Homo sapiens: one gene and its partners. The protein of the gene in region 3 purifies or fractionates together with the protein of the main gene of each other region. This does not show direct contact. Each region holds a gene or a part of one and is shown on either strand. Other genes may lie near its edges. The genes, in order: TCF7L2, TTF2, CRYBB3, IQGAP3, ARMCX5, HELZ and CDC42BPG.

The links.
Region 1: the proteins of CRYBB3 (region 3) and TCF7L2 purify together in Homo sapiens (affinity purification with mass spectrometry; one large-scale study listed by BioGRID and IntAct). This does not show direct contact.
Region 2: the proteins of CRYBB3 (region 3) and TTF2 purify together in Homo sapiens (affinity purification with mass spectrometry; one large-scale study listed by BioGRID and IntAct). This does not show direct contact.
Region 4: the proteins of CRYBB3 (region 3) and IQGAP3 purify together in Homo sapiens (affinity purification with mass spectrometry; one large-scale study listed by BioGRID and IntAct). This does not show direct contact.
Region 5: the proteins of CRYBB3 (region 3) and ARMCX5 purify together in Homo sapiens (affinity purification with mass spectrometry; one large-scale study listed by BioGRID and IntAct). This does not show direct contact.
Region 6: the proteins of CRYBB3 (region 3) and HELZ purify together in Homo sapiens (affinity purification with mass spectrometry; one large-scale study listed by BioGRID and IntAct). This does not show direct contact.
Region 7: the proteins of CRYBB3 (region 3) and CDC42BPG purify together in Homo sapiens (affinity purification with mass spectrometry; one large-scale study listed by BioGRID and IntAct). This does not show direct contact.

The regions. Positions count from the first base shown.
Region 1 is NC_000010.11:113,163,223-113,165,718, forward strand, and holds part of TCF7L2 (transcription factor 7-like 2), read left to right. Parts: intron 1-2,332; coding exon 2,333-2,496. UniProt on the Homo sapiens protein: Participates in the Wnt signaling pathway and modulates MYC expression by binding to its promoter in a sequence-specific manner. Acts as a repressor in the absence of CTNNB1, and as activator in its presence.
Region 2 is NC_000001.11:117,105,324-117,107,981, forward strand, and holds the end of TTF2 (transcription termination factor 2), read left to right. Parts: 3' UTR 1-2,130; downstream 2,131-2,658. UniProt on the Homo sapiens protein: DsDNA-dependent ATPase which acts as a transcription termination factor by coupling ATP hydrolysis with removal of RNA polymerase II from the DNA template. May contribute to mitotic transcription repression. May also be involved in pre-mRNA splicing.
Region 3 is NC_000022.11:25,202,846-25,205,376, forward strand, and holds part of CRYBB3 (beta-crystallin B3), read left to right. Parts: intron 1-917; coding exon 918-1,050; intron 1,051-2,374; coding exon 2,375-2,517; intron 2,518-2,531. UniProt on the Homo sapiens protein: Crystallins are the dominant structural components of the vertebrate eye lens.
Region 4 is NC_000001.11:156,569,766-156,574,025, reverse strand, and holds the start of IQGAP3 (ras GTPase-activating-like protein IQGAP3), read left to right. Parts: upstream 1-1,460; 5' UTR 1,461-1,496; coding exon 1,497-1,533; coding exon of another isoform or gene 1,534-1,548; intron 1,549-4,260.
Region 5 is NC_000023.11:102,598,273-102,602,320, reverse strand, and holds the start of ARMCX5 (armadillo repeat-containing X-linked protein 5), read right to left. Parts: upstream 2,807-4,048; 5' UTR 2,474-2,806; exon of another isoform or gene 2,462-2,473; intron 1,402-2,461; 5' UTR 1,289-1,401; intron 858-1,288; 5' UTR 812-857; intron 442-811; 5' UTR 180-441; coding exon 1-179.
Region 6 is NC_000017.11:67,238,685-67,242,214, forward strand, and holds part of HELZ (probable helicase with zinc finger domain), read right to left. Parts: intron 806-3,530; 5' UTR 749-805; intron 1-748. UniProt on the Homo sapiens protein: May act as a helicase that plays a role in RNA metabolism in multiple tissues and organs within the developing embryo.
Region 7 is NC_000011.10:64,827,633-64,831,162, reverse strand, and holds part of CDC42BPG (serine/threonine-protein kinase MRCK gamma), read left to right. Parts: intron 1-815; coding exon of another isoform or gene 816-885; exon of another isoform or gene 886-906; coding exon 907-969; intron 970-1,092; coding exon 1,093-1,692; intron 1,693-3,379; coding exon 3,380-3,477; intron 3,478-3,530. UniProt on the Homo sapiens protein: May act as a downstream effector of CDC42 in cytoskeletal reorganization. Contributes to the actomyosin contractility required for cell invasion, through the regulation of MYPT1 and thus MLC2 phosphorylation.

The DNA of each region.
Region 1 (2,496 bases), on a different chromosome or scaffold from region 3:
AAGGTACCAGAATGCTCCTAGCCAATCAGGGCTTCTAGCTTGCCACACAAGGTTTCTAGTTTCATTTGACATTTGTGGACATTTTAACAAGATTCTGTTTTGAGCCCACCAAGTTGCTTTTCCCATCTTTTCACTCTGCCCTAATATAGCATGGAATGCTGCTTGGTGCTGTTCCCTTGTCTTCCTGGTTGTTCTCCCTGCTTCTTTCTTTCTCCCTTTCCTTTCCTCTCTCTGTTTTTCTCTGTTGCTTTCTCAGTTTTGCTTATGCCCTCCCCCTCCCCACCTCCTTTCCTTCTCCCATTTTTAAAATGCATGGACATCTTAGTTTTTTGAGCATGTTTTGATCTGCAGGCTAAGGTGGTTTAAAACTCTGAGAGGCTTAATTATTTATCTTGGTTTCTGGGATGGAAGCAGAACCCATAGTCTATTTACTCTCTCCCAGGGAGAAAAAGGAACCTTGCCAAATTGAGGGTGAGAGGGGGTGGTGCTTGCTCCCCTAGAGTTCCTTCTGACCCAGAAGGAACAGACAGACCCTGAGGCCACTAGCCCCCATGAATCTCAGCCTCTGGGAGGCAGGGAGGACTGAGCATGCTCCCTTACACCCCTCCCCTCCTTCCCTGCCTTCCTGCCATCTTGCTGAGTCCAAACCCCAAGCACAGAGGGGCATGATCAGACAGCTCTGGGGCACAGACTGAGAGGAGGAACTCAGCACACCCTTCCTTTCCAAGGCCAGTGACATTGTCTGACAGTGGTTGCCTTCAAGCAGGCAGCATCTTGGTTGCTTCCAGCGGCAGAAAGCTGGCCAGTGCTTACACACGTGTTTCCAGTTGGAGTGTTATCAGCCATGGTTCTGACAATATTCTAGGGTCCTTAGATGAGCACACTTCCTGTATCTGCATTATTTTTATAGCATTAGTGGGGTTGATCCCCAGGCTCACCTTTCCTTACCAAATACCATCCCATCAGACTGGGATTAATGGGAGGAGAAGCTTTGAAGTCACATGCTCAATTTCTTGAGTTGATTTTCCCCGACCTCATCCTTTGATGCTAAGCAAGAAGGGCTCTGAAATTCTCATTCCTATTTCTTACATGAATGAGTAGTGAAGAGGGGAGATGCTGGTTTTGGTGCAGGGCAAAATTAGTCTTTCTGGTTTAAACACGAATCACGATAACCCAAACCCAGGAAGGTCCATGCTGCGATTCCCTGGCACTTCTTCTTTGTAGTCACTTCGGTGACCGGCTTGTGCTGCACCCTCCATTGACTAGCCTTGGCATATTGACAAGAGCAGGATGCCCCTCCATCCATCCCATCCTCACCATCTCTCCTTCCAACCTTCTCACTACGGGGTGGGGGAGGGGAAAGCCCCAAATCTTAAAAAAAAAAAAAAAATCAAGTTTGAATCTTAATTTAATCCACAACCTGCAGGCCATACAACCAGTTATTCTCGTTCCTTTGAATCATTTTCTGTTTTTCTTATTCTTCCCCCTCCCCCACCTTTGTTTATCCTCTTCTACCTGTTTTTGGTGGTTTCTTTTTTTTGTTTCGTTTTTTGTTTTTTGTTTTTGTTTTAAGTTTATTTTGTTTTATTTTTGTTTCCCTTCCTCCCTTCTCACCTGATTCTGACCTCTCTTGATTTGGTGTGGTTCTTAACAGACAAGCCCGAAAGCTCTCTGGGCGCCAGCAGCCTCATGGTGGTGGTGTGTTAAAACCTTTAAGCCTCTTGCTAGCGCTGCCTTCAGCTATGTGGGCTCAACAGTGAGCATTTTGAGAGTTTCATATTGATACGAGGCGGCTGGGGAAGGAGCTCTGTCTTTCTCTTTTAAACACACACACACTCACACTCACACACTCACACACACACATCACTGGGGGATGGGGGTGGTAGTGGTGGGAATGGGAGTGAAGGGCCGAGGAAACTTGATGGGAAAGTGAGGGACTGTCTAAGCCAAAAGAGCTTTTCAGTTCTTCTCAATTTGGACAAAGCCACTTTTTGGCAAATAGATGCCACCATCTGCAGGTGGCCGCCTCCATGCTGCTCTCGTATATAATTTGGGCATGGTGGGGCATGGGTGTTTAGTAGGGGTTGGGGGAAGCAAGTAGAGAGTTCAGACTCTTAAATAAGTTGTTTGCCAGAGCAGGCTTAGATCTGGGCACTGTGAAGTAAGCGACCCACCCTGGGGGGGCGCCACTGTAATTGTCCTCGGACCACTGGGCGTGCCACCTCTGTGGGACATCCCTTAGGTGACCTCAGCTTGGGTGTGAGCATTAGGTAACTCTCTCCCTTGGCATCTGTGCCCTCTATTCACAGATAACTCTCTCCCCTGTTTCTAGGAGAAAAAAAAAGTGCGTTCGCTACATACAAGGTGAAGGCAGCTGCCTCAGCCCACCCTCTTCAGATGGAAGCTTACTAGATTCGCCTCCCCCCTCCCCGAACCTGCTAGGCTCCCCTCCCCGAGACGCCAAGTCACAGACTGAGCAGACCCAGCCTCTGTCGC
Region 2 (2,658 bases), on a different chromosome or scaffold from region 3:
GTATGTAGTTTGACTTTGCCTTAGCCATGTTGATCAAATAGGAGTATTGTGCATGCCGCAGCTAGACAGAGTCCTGGGCCCTTTAAAAACCTTGTCAGTGACTCCCATTGCAGGCCCAGCGCAGTGGTTCACACCTGTAATCCCAGCATTTGGGAGGCTGAGGCAGGCAGATCACTTGAGGCCAAGAGTTCGAGACCAGACTGGCCAACATGGCAAAACCTCCTCTCTACTAAAAATACAAAAGTTAGCCAGGCGTGATGTTGGGTGCCTGTAATTGCAGCTACTCGGGAGGCTGAGGCAGGAGAATCACTTGAATCCAGGAGGCGGAGGTTACAGTGAGCTGAGATCATACCACTGCACTCCAGCCTGGGCCACAGAGAAAGAACGGTGATTCTTTCTAGCAGAAATTAGCAGAGTAAGTGTTTTTGGAACAATTGCTAATGAAAAGAAGGAAAAACAGAAAAAAAAAATTTTCTGTTTATGGGAGGTGACTTATTTCTCTATCAATCCTGTGAGTGATTTAGCATGGCAATTCATGAACACTGAGTTGTTTCCTTGCTCTGATTGTCTGTTGCTCAATGAAATGGCTTTTAGCAGGGCTCAAAGGTGAAGCCAGATTCTCCTGCACTAATAGGATAAGCATGGAGACACCAGTGTTCAGTGTGGCCTCTGGTTGTCTGAAATTTTGCTGTCAACTCTAATACCTTGAAAGAATTAGGTTTCCAAAGTGGGATATTGTGCTGCTGTTTGTGATATAGCATCTAGACTTAGGAAAGGGCAGGAACAATTTAAAAGCACATCTGTAGGCACAAAGAGAATTATAATAGAAATTCAGAATTCCTAGGCATATGACCTAGACTAAAATGTCTTCATAACTACAAATGAAATCAGGGTCATTTATAGTACAAACTACCACAGAAGTCAGTAGTTAGGGGATGGAGATAGATATGAAAAAAAAAAAAAGCAAACCCAGCCTAACTCCCAGGGAGGGAAGAGGGGCGACAGATATGCAGCTACACAATGTTTTTACTATCTTGAGTTCTTTTTACCCAGATTCCATAGCTAAATCCAGATGTATTAATAGGTAGAGACTACTTCAGAAAGGATGAGACTATTTTCTTGCTTAATTATCCACACAGTAATTCAGAAATGTATATTGAACACTTTTTATATGCCAGGCACTGCTGGGCACTGGAAATATAAAAGTAAGCAAAAATGAAAAACTATCCTGTCCTCCTGAGGCTTAGCATCTAAGGGAGACAGGCATTAGTCAACCCCGTGTGGCTGTGAATCAGCCATGATGCTGAGTGCTACAAGAGAGGACTGTGCGGCTGGGAGGGCTTATAACAGGATTTGACCTAGTTAGGGAAGATCTGAGGAAGTGATGAAAGAATGGAAATCAATATGTAAGAGCTCACAAGTCAGAGTGAGATGTTTCTTCCTATACTGCCTGCTTCTAATGAGCATCCACTTCATTGAACCACCTCTTCATTGAGCCAAACCTACCATACAGGGATACATTCTCTGGAGGAAAGTTGAGCAACTATTGCATTTGGGACATTAGAGTATGGGTGGGCTGACAGGTATGTGTATGTTTATTATCCAAGACAGCCAAGGTGTTTATCCTGTTACAACATCCCAGAGGACAGAGGCTCTTATTTGTGACTCTTTTTTCTTACCTGTAACACCAGAGGCATAACGTACATCATAATGCTGCATCTTGTTGACGCTTCAATGCTCACAATTCAAAGGTGATTTCTGAAGCACTTTGTTACACTGGGGACAGCTCCTAAATCCTCCCACTCTTTTTTTGCCTCACCTTGGAGTCTTGGGCTCTGTTGATCACTGACTCTGCCAGGTCTTTCAGCAGGCAAGACAGCTCAGTTAAATTGAGTTTGGACTCCACTGTAGTGCATGCATGAGACAGCACCCCCAATCCCCAACACCCACACACAAACTTTAAATATTTGTAACAGAATTGTTACCATTAATATTGCTTAAAGGCTAACACATTAGCCAGAACCTAGATGTCTTCTGGAAATTTTTTATTGCAATGTTACTTCATCTACATAAAGTTGTCCAATCACTGAAACCTCCAACTGAAATAAATGGTAAGCTTTTTGTTCTCAATTCTGAAATCAGATTCATTAAAAGGCACATGGGGATAGATGATATAATACAACAGGCTTCTTCATGGGAAGCAGTTCCCTAGATGTATGAGGTAATTGGAAAATTCAAGGCTGGTCTCTCAGGTGCATATAATTTATCCAACAGACTCGAGATAAGGCTGATTTTTTTTCCAAGTGGTATTTGTTTAAATGACAAATACTGAGGTTCGGGAGAAGGGAAGTCTGGCTTATAAAAACAGATACCAAGGAGATCCAAACTAAAAATTCTACCAATTAGATCTTTATTCACTGATCATAATATTAAGTCTCTACTATGTGCCAGGAACTGTCCTACATCGGGACAGTATGGTAGTTTAAAAATATCCCTGCCCTCATAGAGCTTACAATCTAATATGAGAGGACAGACAACAAACAGAATATATACATGTTGGCCTGTAATCCCAGCACTTCGGGAGGCTGAGATGGCCAGGAGTTTGAGACCAGCCTGGGCAACATGGCAAAACCCCATCTCTACAAAAAATGCAAAAAA
Region 3 (2,531 bases):
TGGAGGCCCCAGTCTGAGCTCTAGATCTGTTGTGGGGCTTTTGACAGCTCCCCTGCCTTCTCTGGCCTCGTTTTCCGCATCTGTAAAATGAGAGTTGAAGAATTCTCTAGAATCCTAGATGTCTGCAGAAAATCCCAGGATACCTGAGGTTGGAAGAACAGCAAGGTCAACCTAGCACCTAACTCAGTGACTGGAACATGGGATTTAATATTTATAATTTTAATAATAATTGTAACACCTAAAATTTAACATGCATTATGTCATTGAATCGTCATGACCCTGTGACAGAGGTATCATTCTTATTCCCACTTTATAGATGGGGAAACTGAGGCCAAAGTTGGTAAGTGTCCCATCCATGTCCACAAGGCAGGCAGGTCTCCCAGCTGGGCCCTGAATTCCCGCCTTTGGATTGCAAGTCCAGGCTCTGGCACTAACCATCTGGGTGATCTTCGGCAAGTTGCTTCACACACCAGGCCTCTGTTTTCTCATCTGTTGAATGGGGATAACAATGGTACGTACTTCAGAGAGAGTTTTTATGAAAATGAATGGAATGATGCAAATAAATACATATTAATAACAATACAATACAAAGAAGAGGAAAAGGAAGAGGAAGAAGTCACTGTCACCTATGGAATACTTACTGTGTACCGGGCATTGTGCTAAAGACTTTTCTGGGTACCTTGCACAGAGGCTAGATTCTCAATAACATACCCTAGGATGGTTTTCTGGCCCAGAGTCTCAGACAGTTCCCGGTATGTCCTAGCAGCTCCTTTAATTACAGGTCCAGGAATTAGCAGTAGGGTTGGAGGGAGGGTACAAGGTTCAAGGTCAGCAGCTCTTGGACACTTCTCTCACTAAACTTGAATCCTTCCTCAGCTGCAGCAAAGGTGACCCAGCCAAGCCTCTTCCTCCCTCAGGTGGCTGGCATTTGAGTCCAGGGCCTTCCGCGGGGAGCAGTTTGTTCTGGAGAAGGGGGATTATCCTCGCTGGGATGCCTGGTCCAACAGCCGTGATAGTGACAGCCTTCTGTCCCTCCGGCCTCTGAATATTGTGAGTGTGGTTCCTGCTCACTTCTGGGTGTTCCTGGAAGCAGGGTGCACTGAGAGCTGGTCAGGCAGCTCATTGCACAAGCTGGGCTGAGGGTTTGGCCCATATGGACCTGGCCTGGGAAGGGCCCTCATGTTTCTGATTTGAACAATTGTGTGGGACAAGAAGTGGGATATTGAAGGGACATTCGGTTGGGGATTGAGACACCAGGACTCACATCTTGAATTAAACCAGCATAGCACTGGGACTTTTCTTTGTAACCGTACTAAAACGATGAGCCACATGGCCCAGTCTCAAATCAGTATTGTTATCAAAGAAATGCAGTCCAGGAAATAACTTCAGAAAGTAGCCAAAATACTTTAAGTTCTCCACTTGTGTTTTTCTAGCACCTGAAAGGGACACAGTCCACAGTGACACTTTTTATTTATTTGTTTATTTATTTATTTTTCGAGACAGACTCCTGCTCTGTCACCCATGCTGGAGTGCAGTCTTTCTCTCTCTCTCTTTTTAAACATTTTTATTTATGTATTTTTATTTCATTTTGAGTTGCAGTCTCGCTCTGTCACCCAGGCTGGAGTGCAGTGGCATGATCTCTGCTCACTGCAACCTCTGCCTCCTGGGTTCAAGTGATTCTCCTGCCTCAGCCTCCTGAGTAGCTGGGACTGAAGGCACATGCCACCACGCTGGGCTAATTTTTGTATTTTTAGTAGAGGTGGCGTTTTGCCATGTTGGCAAAGCTGGTCTTGAACTTCTGGCCTCAAGTGATCTGCCTGCCTCGGCCTCCCAAAGTACTGGGATTACAGGCCTGAGCCACCACGCCCGGCCCACAGTGACACTTTAAACACCACCCTTCTCCCTCCCCTGCTTCACTCACACCCCGCAGCTGCTCCAGCCCTTTCTCTTTGTCACATAACTGAGTCCTCCTTAGAGGGCAGTGGAAGAGGGGAAACTGGGAAGATTAAACCGGCATCTGGTTAGGAAAGAGGGAAAGCTCATATGTTGATACTTTTGATCTCTGTCCACCCTCTCCTGGCCTCAGTTTCTCTATCATTTAAATGATGGGATTGAACAAGATCTGGAAATTCCTTTTCAGTTTTATAATCTACGGCTCTAGGTTCCTAAATCAACCAGCTTTGGAGGAATCTCCCCGTCCCTCCTACAGTGAATTTGGGGGTGGAGGCATCTCCTGAGGCCCTTCCCTCCTGCAGCAGGTTTGGGGGTGGGTGTTATTTTGTGGTGACCTGTTGATTCTTTCCGGCATCTGGAGCCTCCTTGACCTCTGTTCTGGATATGGGAGCAGCCGCTCACCCCACGATATTGCCCTCAGGATAGTCCACATCACAAGCTGCATCTGTTTGAGAACCCAGCTTTCAGTGGCCGCAAGATGGAGATAGTGGATGATGACGTGCCCAGCCTGTGGGCTCATGGCTTCCAGGACCGTGTGGCGAGTGTCCGTGCCATCAACGGGACGTAAGGGACCCAAC
Region 4 (4,260 bases), on a different chromosome or scaffold from region 3:
TCTCAGCCCCTGAGTCTCCTCTGTTCCTCTGAAGGCTCTAGGTATGGATTTCTGTTTTCTGTTCTTTCACATTCTCCTCTCCTACCTGCCCAAGCTATAAGCCTAGGCTGCTTGGTTGTTTGGATGGAGTGTGGGGAAAGGGTAAAAGGAGAAATACAAGATGGGGAAACCTATCAGATAATATTTTTTCAGCATAGTTGTTGGTGTCATAATTATTTTTTATTAGTTCAGGCTCTTTTTTTTTTTTTTTTTTTTTTTTTTGAGACGGCGTCTCACTCTGTCGCCCAGGCTGGAGTGCAGTGGCACAGTCTCAGCTCACTGCAACCTCTGCCTCCTGGGTTCAAGCGATTCTCCTGCCTCAGCCTCCGGAGTACCTGGGATTACAGGCATACCCCACCACGCCTGGCTAATATTTGTATTTTTACTAGAGATGGGGTTTCACCATGTTGGCCTGTCTGGTCTTGAACTCCTGACCTCAGTTAATCTGCCCGCCTCCGCCTCCCAAAGTGCTGGGATTACAGGTGTGAACCACCGTGCCTGGCCTAGTTCAGGCTCTTATTATCTCTCTTCTGTGCTACTGCAGTAGCCTTCCAACTGGTCTCTGCCCCTAGCCTCACCCCCTTCCAATCCCCTGCTATAAGATGGCTCTTTTTAAAGGACAAATCTGGCTCTGACCTATGTCTAAAGTGTTCCTTGGCTGGTGACTGCTCACCAGACCCCATGCCAGGGCCCTAGCATGGTGCCCAAGGTGCTACTGGACCTGGCCCTGTGCCTCCAGGATCCCTTCTGGCCTCTCCCTGGCTGAGCTTTGTTCTCCTCTAAAACTGAACCAAGTTTAAGTTCCCGAACTCACCTCCTCGTTCTTGCACATGCTGTCTCCACTGACTGCACTGCCTCTCTTCTTCAATCTGATGAATTCTCTTTCACTTCTCAACCCAAATCAGCTGTCACTTCCACCAGGACGTCTTCCCTGTCATTCGCTGCTCTTATTCACAGCAATGACCCCCTCCCTCTGTGCATCACCGACCTCTAATTTATTTGACTATATGTCTATCACTTGTGCCAGAACAGCAAACTCTTTTAGAGCATTCACTGCCCTCATACATCTCTGCATTCGCATCACCTAGCTTAGTGCATAGCGCCAAGTAGGCCCACAAGTTAGCCGGACTCGGGAACACATAGGAAGCAGAGTAGGGGTTAATGGGAATACTAGGTGGAGATGACAGAGGCAATGGCAGGGGCAGCAGCTAGAATAAGACTGTTAAGCAGAAAAGGAGCCTGGAAGGAACAAGACGAGGAACTGCTGTAAGGGGAGCGGTACTGCCCCGGCCTGGGGCGCCTCTTCTCCCAGCACCTGGGCGGCCCGGCTCCGCGGCCGGGAACTACAAATCCCAGGATTCTCAGCGGTGTGGACGGGAAGTGTCCTGTCTGGCGGTGCCGACGGTGAGGGGCGGTGGCCCAACGGCGGGAGATTCAAACCTGGAAGAAGGAGGAACATGGAGAGGAGAGCAGCGGGCCCAGGCTGGGCAGCCTGTGAGTGCGGAGAGGGTCAGAGAAGGGTCTCGCAGTGGTGCCGCTGGTCGGGGGCTTGGCTGTCCCGGGAGAGATTGGGGCGTGTGTCGGGCGTGAAGCCTGAGGGGCGAGGGCGGTGGGACTGCTCAGTGGGACGGGAATCCTCAGCCCGGGCGCCGTGGGCCCGAGTGGAACTGTGAGCGGCGCATTGTCCCCTGACTAATGTGCTGCGCTTTAAAGCTTACAAAGAACTTTCTTCCTATTTCCAAGTTCTGGGGTTCCGGAGTCGGGAGAATGTAGGTGATCCTAATGGCTCCTTGAAATTCAGCAGTTACTGCTGGCTACCAAACTTGCCCAGCGATGCCACCGGACAAGACGCCTCAAGGGATCTGGGGGACTCTTAGGCTTTGAGATGCCGCTTTCAGACAATGCCTGTCAAACAGGGGGTGAAATTACCCGGGAAGCTTGTTTGAGATGCAGATTCCTGGGACCTGTCCCAGAGCTTCAGTTCCAGAAGGTCTGGTTTGGGGCCCATAATCTGCATTTATAACAAGCACTGCTGTGCTTCTTCCCTCACCCCAGGTGATTGTGAGGAAGGTAGTCCCTGGGCCACATTTTCAAAGACACTGTTTTAGAGAGAGAGACTGGAGCTGGAAGGATGGGTGGGGCAGAAAGGTTCTATCTGATTTTCTGAATGAAAGGAAAACCTGCTCCTTCCACCACTCCCTTCCTTTCTATTAGGATTCAAAGAGCAAAGTCCATGTCCAGTCTTCTGTTAAAGGAAAACTAGTTCCAGACCTGAGAAGGACAGGAAAACTGTTTTTCGGTTTTTTATTTTTTTGAGACAGCATGTGTATGTACAAAATCCCTCCCATCGCCCACAGTCCTCAGTTCATAACTCTGAGATGATGTCATTCACTTACTGGTTTATTTTCCATGCTTAACAACCAACACTTGTTCCTTGTACACCCCCTTGGAGGAACTGATGGCTTTCCTGTGGTTGGCCAGTGTTTTCAAATCTGTATTTGGAGGGGTGTGTGTGTGTGTGCACGCATGTGTTTTAATTTACTTAACTGCTCATTCATATAAGCTCTGCCCTTCCCTGAATCATTGCAGAATATGCAATATAAGGAAATAGGATAACAACCGGGAATGACATTAAGTGCTGAGTCAAAGACAGATTGGCTAAGCTCTGCCTTTTTTCAAGCTCTCTGAGTTTATTTTCTTACTGTGTGTGTAGCTTTCTCTTACTCTTTCTGTTTGATTTTGTATTGTGTTTCTAAGGAGAATAGAGAGAGGGGAGAGAAGGGAGAAGGATTAAGGGAGACTGTAACTAAGGCAAATTATGATTGCTGTCTCACTTGAGGGATTCTCTATTCTTGAGTTTTGGAATCAGTACTCTGTATTTTATTTAGCTTGAAGATTCTTTTCCTCCTCGGGTGACCTATACCAAAAAGGATAGTGAAGATACCTTTGTGATCTTTTAAAATTTTCTTTGTCCTTCCACTTAATCCCAAGTGAGTGGCATGTTTCCCTCTGTTGGACTGCCTTTCCCTGTGTTCCGCCTATTTATTCCTTAAGATCTAGTTCATAGCTAGAATCCTTTGCTTCCTCTGCTGCTCCCATAGATTTTATGCATGGGCTATAATCATACTTATCATGTTAGATTAATTTATTCAGATGTTTTTCTCTTCTGATAATAATCTTTGGGCGCTGTGGTTCACGCCTGTAATCCCAGCACTTTGGGAGGCCAAGGCGGGAGGATCACTTGAGCCCAGGAGTCCAAGACCAGCCTGGGCAACATGGTGAGAACCAGTCTCAACAAAAAACGCAAGAATTAGCCAGACATGGTGGTGCGCACCTGTGGTCCCAGCTATTTGGTGGTGGGGGGGCTGAGGTGGGAAGATCACCTGAGCCCAGGAGGTCAAGGCTGCACTACTGCACTCCAGCCTGGGTGACAGAGTGACACCCTGTTTCAAAAACAAAACAAACCCACCAATATCTCTGTTGTCCAGGATGGAGTGCAGTGGCACGATCATGGCTAACCGCAGCCTAGACCTCCTGGGCTCAGGTCTAGGCCCAGTAGCTGGGAGTACAGGTTTGCACCATCACACCAGGCTAATTTGTGTATTTTTTGTCAAGACAGGGTCTCACCATGTTGCCCAGGCTGGTCTCAAACTTCTGGGCTCAAGCGATCCACCTACCTCAGCATCCAGAAGTACTGGGATTATAGGCATGAGCCACCATGCAGGCCTTTATCTCTGCATTTCTTAAGAGTAGGGGTCTGCTAGTCCAGTGCCTGGCATAAAGGAGGTATTGATGAATGAATGAATGAGTGAATGATGAATTCTGGTTGGTTCTATTACCTCACCTCTGAGAGAGTAACCAACGAGGATGACACAGGTCCAGTTCTTGGAGAACTCAGTCTAATTAGGGATAAGAAAAGGAGTTAAGTTTCAAGCCAAGGAAGGCTCTGGATGTCCCAGCTGGGAGGTACTGAGGGAAGTTCCATGAGTAGACTTGAGGAGGAAGAGGACAGGAAGATGGCTACAGAGGAAAGAGAAGTAATGCCTCCAGCACAGGAGGAGGCTGCCTATTAAAGGGTATCCTGGGAAGAGAAGGAGGGACACATGGGAGATGTTTCAGGTCTCTGAGCAGGGTTGCCTAAACAAGTCTGTTGAGAAGATGTTTCGGCTGGGCATGGTGGCGGCTCAAGCCTGTAATGCCAGCACTTTGGGAGGCCAAGGC
Region 5 (4,048 bases), on a different chromosome or scaffold from region 3:
GTCATTGCTCCATCACCAGCTTTGGCCTGGGTCACTGATTCTGTTTTCAGTTCTGCCTCAGCCACTGCCTCGGCCTGGGTTTTACCATTCACTCTAGCAGTGGCAGGACCACTGATTCCATCTTGCAGGCCAGCCTCAGCCTTTCCTCTAGCCCTTGCTTCTGTCCCAGAGTCAACCATGTTCCAAGTTTAACGTAAGGACAAGTTATATACCCCCACCCGTCTCAGCCTTGACTGAAGTTTTGTCCCGGTTGGTGTTTTCACACAAAGTCCAGTAGTCACTCTGTCCCCTTTCCAACTACAGGCTCTGCCAGTGATATAGAAAACATGCAGAGGAAGCTCACTCAAGGTAGGGAAGGATGGCTGTGCATGGGCCCAGCCCTGTGGAGGGTGGTGGTCTTCAGCCACTCCAAGGCCACCAGATCTGCCACTGAAGTAGGACCTAGGGGTGGAGGAAGGAAATGGGGCTTTGAGTCTCTTCCAACTTTTTTCTCCTCATGCTGATCAGCACAGGGAGACAGGAGAATATGGTGATTCAGTGCTAGGTGAGAGAGGTAGATAATTAGCAAACTCTCTCTCCCTTCATTTCACCCACTCCCTACACTTCCAAGTGCCATCAGCCTTCTTTCCAGTCACCAAACAGGAGCATAAGGAGTAGGAAAACTGGATGAGAAGCTGAGGAATCCCTTTAGTGGTTCTTGACCCCTGCTGGAGCCAAGCAGCTCTCCACTACTCCATCCTACAGGTCTACCCAGGCAATCCCCACACTCATACCAACCTGCACTGATCTGGAGTAACTTTCTCCTCCTTACCTTGCTTCCAATGGTGACAAGCCCTACAGCAGATCTACAGGCAGACCTATGGACAAATAAACAAACAGGAGAATGTGGAAACTGATCTCCTGGTGACAGACCTTGGTCCCTTGCCCTTATTCTTGCCTTTCCAGATTTTGTCTAGTGTTTCCCTCCTCCTATCCCCTCTCCCCCACTGCTTTGTTTCAGGGCTACTCCTCCTCCTCCTTCCTATTGCCCACCATCTTCCTCTTCAGTGATTGCCCTAGAATGTCCCTCGTTCAGATTAGACTAGGTTCAAGCGTGAGAGCAGGACAAGCAGTGGAGAGTGGGAAAGGCAGCTTAGCATTCTGTACCCCCACAACTTACCAAGACTCCCAACTAAATCAGCAGCAGCAGGGGGTGGGGCAGATGGGAATAATTGGTAAAATGACAAAACAGAAGAGATGGAATTCTCTAGTCGAAGTTGCCCCCCTGTCCCTGTACCTTTACACCAACCTTAACAGATACAGGGCAATTTTCTCTTCTTCGTAATTTCCTAGTTTTAAGTTGGGTGACCATTTTACAAAACTTCACAACTGACAGTTCCACAGACCTGGGGACAGATCTACCTACAGGGATTCACAAAAACAGAGACCAATAAATGAAGACACAGGAGACAGTTGAGGCTGTTTTTGGTAGAGACCAGCACCTAGGGCACAGTTTCTTTCTGGATATAAGTACCTGTTTGGCAAACATTTTCTATCTCCCCTTTTTCTCCCACTCCTAAATCTCCAAGCCCCTCTGCTCTATTCTCAAAGTCTGACAATTCCTATACAGAGACAACTCAAACATCCCTACAAGGTAGTAGTAGTGGTGTTAGTAGGGACGAAATGCCTAGACAAACCACGGAGGCTGGGGAAAAAATGAAAAGTATTTATTTCCATATTTCATCTGGGTTCCTATGTTTCCTTCCTCTCTCCCAAAGCCTATCATTTTCTGCAACATAATGCGGGTAAGGGAGGACATGTTAGGAAAGCTGGCAGAGAGTTCTGGAGGCTCCCTTACACTCCTGCCTACTCTAATCTTAGCCATCTACCACCTCCAAGTACTGCCTCCCAAGTACTGCCCACTCTGTACAAACCAGGCCAATTTTCTTTTCCTTCTCCTCTCCCCTTGAGGTCTGCTGTCCCCTACAGATCTTTACAGAAACATGGAGTGCTGCAAACTTAGGAACAGATTTACACATAAAAACGCGTGATACACACCCAAAGAACAAATGAAAAGACAGAGAGAGAGACGTGGTTATTAATGGTCAGACCAGTAACCAAGACATGAGACCCTTTTCAAATCCAGAGCCTTGATTATCAAACATTTACAACCTCTTTTTACATTCTCTCCCTCTCAGGGCTCCCCAGACAACTGTCCTCGCCTGTGGAAGTAGCCCTCTCTTCCTCATCTAGTCTGCCTTTTCCCTGCTAGAAGCTGCAACCTTTTTCTTCCCAAGCATGGTCTGAGGTGAACCGAGTGTATGGAAATCAAGCTAGCAAAAGGTAGATCATTTTTTTTTAATTGTTGTGTGCCATTCCAATTACCCATCTCTCTCTCCTTCTCACCGCCCGCCTCCCATGACCAGGTCGCGTATCCAGTGTTCACCTCTGATACCCACATCCACCCCCAAGCGATGCGCACCTTCTCACTGACCTTCTCTGCTTGGATCAGAGGCAGTTTTCTTATTTCCTTGCCTCGAGGTGCTGTGTCATACAGCAGCAGGAACAGACAGTCAGACACAAGGACTCGAGGCAATGGCGGCGGCTGTGTATGGGGATTGACTCGGCACCTGGGACTCAAGACGAGATAACCGCTTTATCAGATTAAAGACTGCGATTGGCAAACTGTTGTCACTTTTGGTATTCTTTTCTCCTTCCTGTTCCCAGGGCTCCTCAGAACCTCGCGCGTAGTTACCATTTAACATCTACCTTTTCCTCCGCAGACGAGGTTCTTCCACGTCCGCGTTACCCACAACGGCAGTGGGAGGAGCTAGAGCGTAGTTTATGGGGATCCGGCTTATGGAAGCGGAGTGATATCAGGCTTTGTTTAGCGCCGCGACTCTTTTCTGTCGGAGGGCTCCCTGTCCTGTACCCTGTGGCCGCTTCAGGTATTGGAATGCGCAGGGACGAATTCCGGATATAGGGAAAACGGCGCTGGAACAAGAGAGGCAGACAAATACCAGAGTGTTTCTGTATTAGTTCCCCTTTTGCGGGAGCTCCCCCCACCAAGCCTACCATTCTTTCCTGAACTGAAATGCACATGGGTTTCCAGCTGTGGTGTCAGGAAATCTCTTCTGGCCTGACAGGCGGAAGTGTTCCAGTCTTTCGAAGTTCGTTCTCCAAACACAGAGGCCCACTGAAATGGGCGGTCTCGGGGTGGGGCCCAGGGTAGGAAAGTCAGCAAAGAGAGTCAAGACTGAGATAGGAGGATACATACTAATCGATTCCACAAACTTTGTGTTCCTTCGAGTCCTCCCTCCCAGCCCTTAATTTTCATTTTCTTTTTTTTTTTTTTAAGTTCTAGGATACATGTGCAGGATGTGCGTGTTTGTTAAATAGGCAAACGTGTGCCGTGGTGGCTTGCTGCACCAATCAACCTATGACCTAGGTATTAAGCCTGGCATGCATTAGCTATTTTTCCTAAGGCTTTCCCTCACCGCCCCCCACAACCCCTGACAGGTCCCAGTGCGTGTTTTTCCCCTCCCTGTGTACATGTGTTCTCATTGTTCAGCTTCCACTTATAAGGGAGAACATGCAGTATTTGTTTTCTGTTGCTGCATTAGTTTGCTGAGGATAATGGCTTCCAGCTCGATCCATGTCCCTACAAAGGACATGATCTCATTCTTTATTATGGCTGCATGGTATTTCATGGTGTATATGCACCACATTTTCTTAATGTTATCACTGATGGGCATTTGGGTTGATGCCACGTCTTTGCTATTGTGAATAGTGCGGCAATGAATATACGTGTGCGTGTATCTTTGTAATAGAATGATTTATATTCCTTTGGGTATATACCCAGTAATGGGATTGCTGGGTCAAATGGTATTTCTGGTTCTAGATATTTGAGGAATTGCCACACCGTCTTCCACAATGGTTGAACTAATTTACATTCCCACCAATGTAAAAGCGTTCCCATTTCTCTGCAACTTTGCCAGCATCTCTTGTTTCTTAACTTTGTATTAATTGCCGTTATGACTGGTGTGAGATGGTATCTCATTGTGATTTT
Region 6 (3,530 bases), on a different chromosome or scaffold from region 3:
TCAAAAAAATAATAATAATTTTAACTCTGATGCCTCATAAGGAAAGTATTAAAAGCCTTCTAATTTATTTCTGTAGTATTACCATTTTCTAAGTGTAATAATGAAAGACGAAGACACCATAGCTGACCAAGAAGATTAATTACTGTGAAATAATAAATACTCAAGACTAAACTGTTTTTAATTAACAGGTATTTCAGCAAAAAGTAAATAATCTGAAAGACTAATAGTATCAATAGAGGTAGTACAACCACTAGGAAAAAAAGTTCAACCTTTTGTTTCTATTGATATGTTCTCCATATTTAGATCCTCAAAACTGCAGATATATACAGTCATTCATGACACTATGTAAATAGCAGATAACAGGAAAAACAATTCAATACTTAACCAAGTTCACTGGAGCACAAAGTAATCGCCACTCAAGAATGCTGACACAAAAACTGAAGGACCTCTCAAGTTCCAATAGCACGCAGATAAGCTGAGCCCCTATGCAGTTACTCATCTGAACAGAAGTGGAAGATTAACCTACCCTCACTCATTTCACACACTAACCTGACAAGGCAGCAGGCAGTCTCTTCGGAGCTTGTTCATCATTCAGTCTGTTCCAGAAGTAACCGATTCCGTTAGGATCTGTGCCTTCAGGTTACCACTGTTTCACTACAGCCCTGTATCACTTCACCCTTGTCCCACCTTATTCTTTCAGGCATTATAAAATTCTTGTTTTCTAAATAAAGTTCTAAACCTTACTCACCTGCAGTTCACTGCACTGGGTATCACCCAAATAGCCCATCAGAGCTCTTTATAATTTCTGAAAGACAAAGAAGAAAGTTTTTTTAATACATAGTAGAAAACACCATTCACCAAGATATCAGTTCCAAAGCATTTGTATCCAATATTCCCAGCATATGGTCTTTTGGTCCACACTAGTTCAATAAAATGTAGCATGACCAGCACTAGACCAAGAGTCTTGAGATAAGCCTCCAAAGATTAAAAACAAGCTTGGTTTAATGTTGCTACTACTGAGCTGTGTGACCTTGAGCAACTCATTTAATTTCTTCAGGCCTATATTTCCTTATCTGGAAAATAAGTCACTTAGACTAGCTAGAGAAAGAAGAGCACAGGCTTTCCAGGAAGAACACCAGCTCCACTACTTTACTGGTCTCGTGACGTTACATTAGTTGAGTCACACTTAAGCCTGAATTTCTTCCTTTGTAAAATGGAAATAACTATCTCGTGAGTTGCTATGAGAATTAAAGGAGATGATGAGTTATAAAAAGCCTATAGTAAATATACTGTGCAGCTTATCCTAAAATTCAACAGATGGTAATTCATTACTACCATTAACCCCCACCAGCCCTAACATTACATGAATTCAATTCATGCATATTTCTTTTAAAAGATCAACAAATCAAAACTTTACCAACCTGACTAAAGAACTAACTGTTTTCATGTTTCACAATTCAAATTACAGTTATCTTAAGCTGATGGTAGTTTATCATTATTACTTATCACAGAAAATAAGAACAGAATAGTCCCTGCACAACATCCAAACTCTGGTTCAATGACCATGCCTTTTCTGACTTCTCACTCTACTTCCACACTGCCAGAATATCTCAGGAATAGAGAGGTCTTCCAAAAGCTAAATGACACCCAGCTGTTTGCCAGATTCAGCTCAAGGGAGCAGGACTAGAGACAGAAGAAGAACAGAGGCTTTTCTTTTTTTTAACCTTTTTTACTTTACATAAGTACTGCTCAAATTTGTTTACCATAAGCATACAGGAGTTTTGCATAAAAGTAAATAATTTTTTAAAACTGTATTAGTTAAACACGTTGCCTACTGACAGGAAGCTCGCATTATAGGACATTTTCATCACAACAAAGATAATTTCTGCAGAAGGAAGCAAAAAGGCAAATTCAGATGTGACAAGAACACCTAAAATATAGCACAGAAATGACAAAAATCACAAACATTCACACTTCAGAATAGTTCAGTCAACAAAGATGCCATGCATTCTTTGAAGAACCTGACGATGAATCAAGTTCTTTTTTGTTCAAAGACAAGATATATGTATACACTCTGCTTTACCAAACAACTTCCTGCTCTTACTTGGAGAAACTGACCCAGTACAATTCACAAAAGTAAACAAGTTGGTATGACTGTTGGTATTAGTTGAAAAACTTTCCATTTCTTTTGAATAATTAAAAGTTGACCAAAATAGTTATTACATGTATATATAAATAAAATTCTTCCTGTTACATCTACAGTGGTCTTTTAAAAAGAGGAATATTCACTTCTAACAGATTCAAGATTACTGAAAACTATTATCCCAGCCACCCTCAAAGCAATAAACCATCATGTTATATGCTGCTTCTAGCCAATGCTACAGAAGTAACCCTGACTGCACTCATCAACTGAAATGAATGGTAAGATAGTATGGCATACTCTCCACTTGTATCACTTTTCTTCTAGAAAACATTTCAAAACATTACTTAGAAATCCAATTACATCTGCATGTATATTCACCTAAGTTTATGAAAATTAAACCTAAAAATTTGCTTATAATTTTTTAAGTAGTTCCTCCCCATCTCTTGGATAACTGTTGTTGATACACCTGGCCCGAAATCTTCTATACATTTGAAACAACAGGCAAAGGTCCTTATTTCTTGTATGGGGCCTGTATTTGGATCTTAGGGTCTCTGACAGACAATTATAGACTAATCTACATTCAATATTAATGCCAAGCCTACTGCTTAAATAGAGAACACATGCATCTGTAAGATCTGGGCTACTTACTTGTAGGTCCCTCTGCACTATTCTTAGCCTTTCATGAATATGCTGTAGATTTTTTAATTACACGAGGCCCTTTGCAAGTAAAAATGACTTTTCCTGTTGTTTTGGCATCACTCCTCTTCCAGTGAAAACTGGACAGTCTATAAATATATACCAACTTTAAGACAATGCATTTTAATATCTATGGCATTAGAAAATAAAACTTCTTGTTAACAAATGCAATAATCAAGTTTACCAGCTAATAGAAAGGTACTTACTCCCAAAAACTACAGCCTTACCTAAAAATAGTGTCCTAGCTTCCCAGCCAAAAGGACAGACTAAAAAAGCTCTGTCTTTATTCAGCTCAGAGACACAGACTTCTACCTCACCACAACCTTCAATACTATGGCATTTCCCATTTTAGAATACTTTGTGTAACAAGTTGTTCAGTGGCCAACCACTAACTTCGCTTTGAAATGAATACTAACACTTCACAGAGTCTACATGTGTGAGAACTGTGGAAAATGTCTTGACACAATTCAGGTCAAACAACACTAGCCACACAAGATTACCTACTTCTAAGTATTCCATTTTAGACTACAAACAAACATCTCCACAGTCAAAAAGCAGACCACTGGCTCCTTTCCACAAAATTATCTGTAGGCTTCAAGAAAAAAGATAAGGCCAGGCATGGTGGCTCACGCTTGTAATCCCAGCACTTTGGGAGGCCAAGGCGGGCAGATCACCTGAGGTCAGGAGCTCG
Region 7 (3,530 bases), on a different chromosome or scaffold from region 3:
CACTGCAACCTCCGCCTCCCAGATTCAAGCGATTCTCCTGTCTCAGCCTCCAGAGTAGCTGGGATTGCAGGCATGCACCACCTCGCCTGGCTATTTTTTGTATTTTTAGTAGAGACGGGGTTTCAGCATGTTGGCCAGGCTGGTCTCGAACTCCTGACCTCAGGTGATCCACCCACCTTGGCCTCCCAAAGTGCTGGAATTATAGGCATGGGCCACCGTGCCCAGCTGGAACAAAGGCTTTAGAAAGAGAGAAACGAAGGTTCAGTCCTGGCTGTCTCACTACAAGCTGGGGGACTGGGGGAGCTGCTGTAGAACCACCCAGAGCCTCATAACATCTCCTGGGTGGAGCTGCGAAGAGCTTCACTTGTGCTCAGCCTTGAACCTGGGGCTCAGCAGGGCTCTTCTGTAACTAAGGCTGGGAAAGAGGCATGAAACAGAGCTCCTTGGCGTTCCCCAGCAGCTGAGGCCCTGAGCCAGGCCCGGCTCTCAGGGCGGGAGACACAGGAGAGGTTGTGCGGGTCCCTGGAGCAGTCGGGAACCAGAGGGGAGGGGATTTATTGAGCAAGGGGCTCTGCTGAACCCTCCCCTGCATCACTTCCTCGCTTCCTCAGAGTTGCTCTGTGAGGAAGTACCATCGTTGTCCCCAGTTTACATAAGGAAACCAAGGCTCTGAGAGGTGACATGACTTACCCAAAATCCCACAGCTCAAGATGATGGGCCTCACCCCAACCCCTCTGGAAAAGCCTGTCCAGACTGGGAGAGAAGGGTCAGTGAGGCAGGGACAGCGGGATTATTGCCACCCCCATTTCCTCAAGATAAACAGGCACAGCAGGGCAGGTGGACTGCCCAATCTCCGTGTCATTGAGTGGGACTGCTGACCTCTGACCCTCTGCCTCCCTCTACCAGACCAGGATCGACTTGCGCTTGGCACCGAGGAGGGGCTCTTTGTCATCCATCTGCGCAGCAACGGTACCTATCAAAGCTGGGCTAGGGTGGGCGTGGGCAGGGGCAGCCCCAGCGGGCAGAGGAGGATGGGGATGGGTCACTCTTCAACCACCTGCCAGTGACACTCTCCCCTCGCCAACCCTGCAGACATCTTCCAGGTGGGGGAGTGCCGGCGCGTGCAGCAGCTGACCTTGAGCCCCAGTGCAGGCCTGCTGGTCGTGCTGTGTGGCCGCGGCCCCAGCGTGCGTCTCTTTGCCCTGGCGGAGCTGGAGAACATAGAGGTAGCAGGTGCCAAGATCCCCGAGTCTCGAGGCTGCCAGGTGCTGGCAGCTGGAAGCATCCTGCAGGCCCGCACCCCGGTGCTCTGTGTAGCCGTCAAGCGCCAGGTGCTCTGCTACCAGCTGGGCCCGGGCCCTGGGCCCTGGCAGCGCCGCATCCGTGAGCTGCAGGCACCTGCCACTGTGCAGAGCCTGGGGCTGCTGGGCGACCGGCTATGTGTGGGCGCCGCCGGTGGCTTTGCACTCTACCCGCTGCTCAACGAGGCTGCGCCGTTGGCGCTGGGGGCCGGTTTGGTGCCTGAGGAGCTGCCACCATCCCGCGGGGGCCTGGGTGAGGCACTGGGTGCCGTGGAGCTTAGCCTCAGCGAGTTCCTGCTACTCTTCACCACTGCTGGCATCTACGTGGATGGCGCAGGCCGCAAGTCTCGTGGCCACGAGCTGTTGTGGCCAGCAGCGCCCATGGGCTGGGGTAAGGCCTGCTGAGGGCTTGGCAGGGGGGCCAGGCACCTTCAGTGGGTGGGTGAAGACAGGGTCCCGCCTCAACTCATGAGCCTGGCATTGGAGGCCTTTGGTGCCAGTTTGCATCCTCCAGCCCAACAACACCCTGTCCCACCCTCTGTGGCTTGCAGGGGACCTTCCTTTTCCATGGCTGAGCTCATGCTCCTCTCCTGCCTGAGCCGCTCTCCTTTTGTTTCTATCTAGCAAACTTTTTTTTTCTTTTGAGACAGGGTCTCTGTCTGTCACCAGGCTGGAGTACAGTGGCACAATCTCGACTCACTGCCACCTCCGCCTCCTGGGGTCAAGTGATCCTCCCACCTCACCCTCTCGAGTAACTGGGGGCACAGGTGTGTGCCATCACGCCTGGCTAATTTTTGTTTTGTTTTGTTTGAGACAGAGGAGTCTCACTCTGTCGCCAGGCTGGAGTGCAGTGGTGTGATCTCGGCTCACTGCAACCTTTGCTTCCCGGGTTCAGGTGATTCTCCTGCCTCAGCCTCCCTAGTAGCTGGGACTACAGGTGCACGCCACCACACCCAGCTAATTTTTGTATTTTTAGTGGAGACGGGGTTTCACCATGTTGGCCAGGCTGGTCTCAAACTCCTGACCAAGTGATCCACCTGCCTTGGCCTCCCAAAGTGCTGGGATTACAGGCGTTAGCCAACGCGTCCAGCCTAATTTTTGTATTTTTTCAGAGATGGGGTTTCGCCATATTGCGCAGGCTGGGAGTCTCAAACTCCTGAACTCAAGCAATCCTCCCGCGCGGCCTCCCAAAGTGCTGGGATTACAGGTGTGAGCCACCGGCCCCGGCCTGTACCTGGCAAACTCTTAACTAGGTACCACCCCAGTGTCAGCTCAGGGCCTGGAGCTGGTAGGCGCTCCAAAGATAACCGCTGCGATTGCTGTGGTCACCATTGCCTTCGTGCTCCCCGCCCTGCTTCCCCGTCATTGGTCCTTTCCTTCTCTTTGCCCCACTCTCTCTCCGTCCAGACCTGTGTCACGGCTCTCATCGCCTCCACTTCATGACTGGCTTGGTGCACTGGGGTCCCACAGAATGGGCCGGGGCTGGTTTCCTCATCCACATCAAGCCCCCAGCCCAGGGTGGCACACTCCAGGGGCGATGGGCTTGGAGGAATGAGTGGAAGAGTGAATGAATGAATGAATGAGGCAGTGGGGCAGTCTGGTGCATGCACAAGTAACTAGCATGATGGGTAAGGGCTGGAAGAGAGGGGCAGAGTGTCCTTCGTGAGCAATGGCTCTTTGGGGTGGGGCCTGCAGGTTGGGTGCCGCATATCACCCAAGCTGCCCAGGGCCAAATCGCAGCTCTCAGGACCAGCTGAGTGACCTGACCTTGACCATCACATGGCTCCAGGGGTTCCATTCCCTCATCTGGAAATTAGGGATTATAACAGTAGTACTTGCTCAGAGTTGTTAGAAAATTAAGGCAGGAAAAGCATGTCGTGTTTAGAACTGAGCCAGGCATGTGGTGAGTGGTCCAGGGTTATCTCTGATTTGATGTGGAGGCTGGGCCGGGCGACAGGGAGTCTTCAGAGGAAGGACCTTAGCGTGGGGCATGGTAGTTACTGTGCTGTGGCAGGGGACAAGGTGTTCCCTGTGGAACAGAGGGGGAAACAGCTCAGAGGTGCCTGGCGTGCCCGCAGGGTATGCGGCCCCCTACCTGACAGTGTTCAGCGAGAACTCCATCGATGTGTTTGACGTGAGGAGGGCAGAATGGGTGCAGACCGTGCCGCTCAAGAAGGTGAGGGTCCGCCAGAGCCCTGGGGTAGCGCCGGGGGTGGAGGCGTGGCCTGA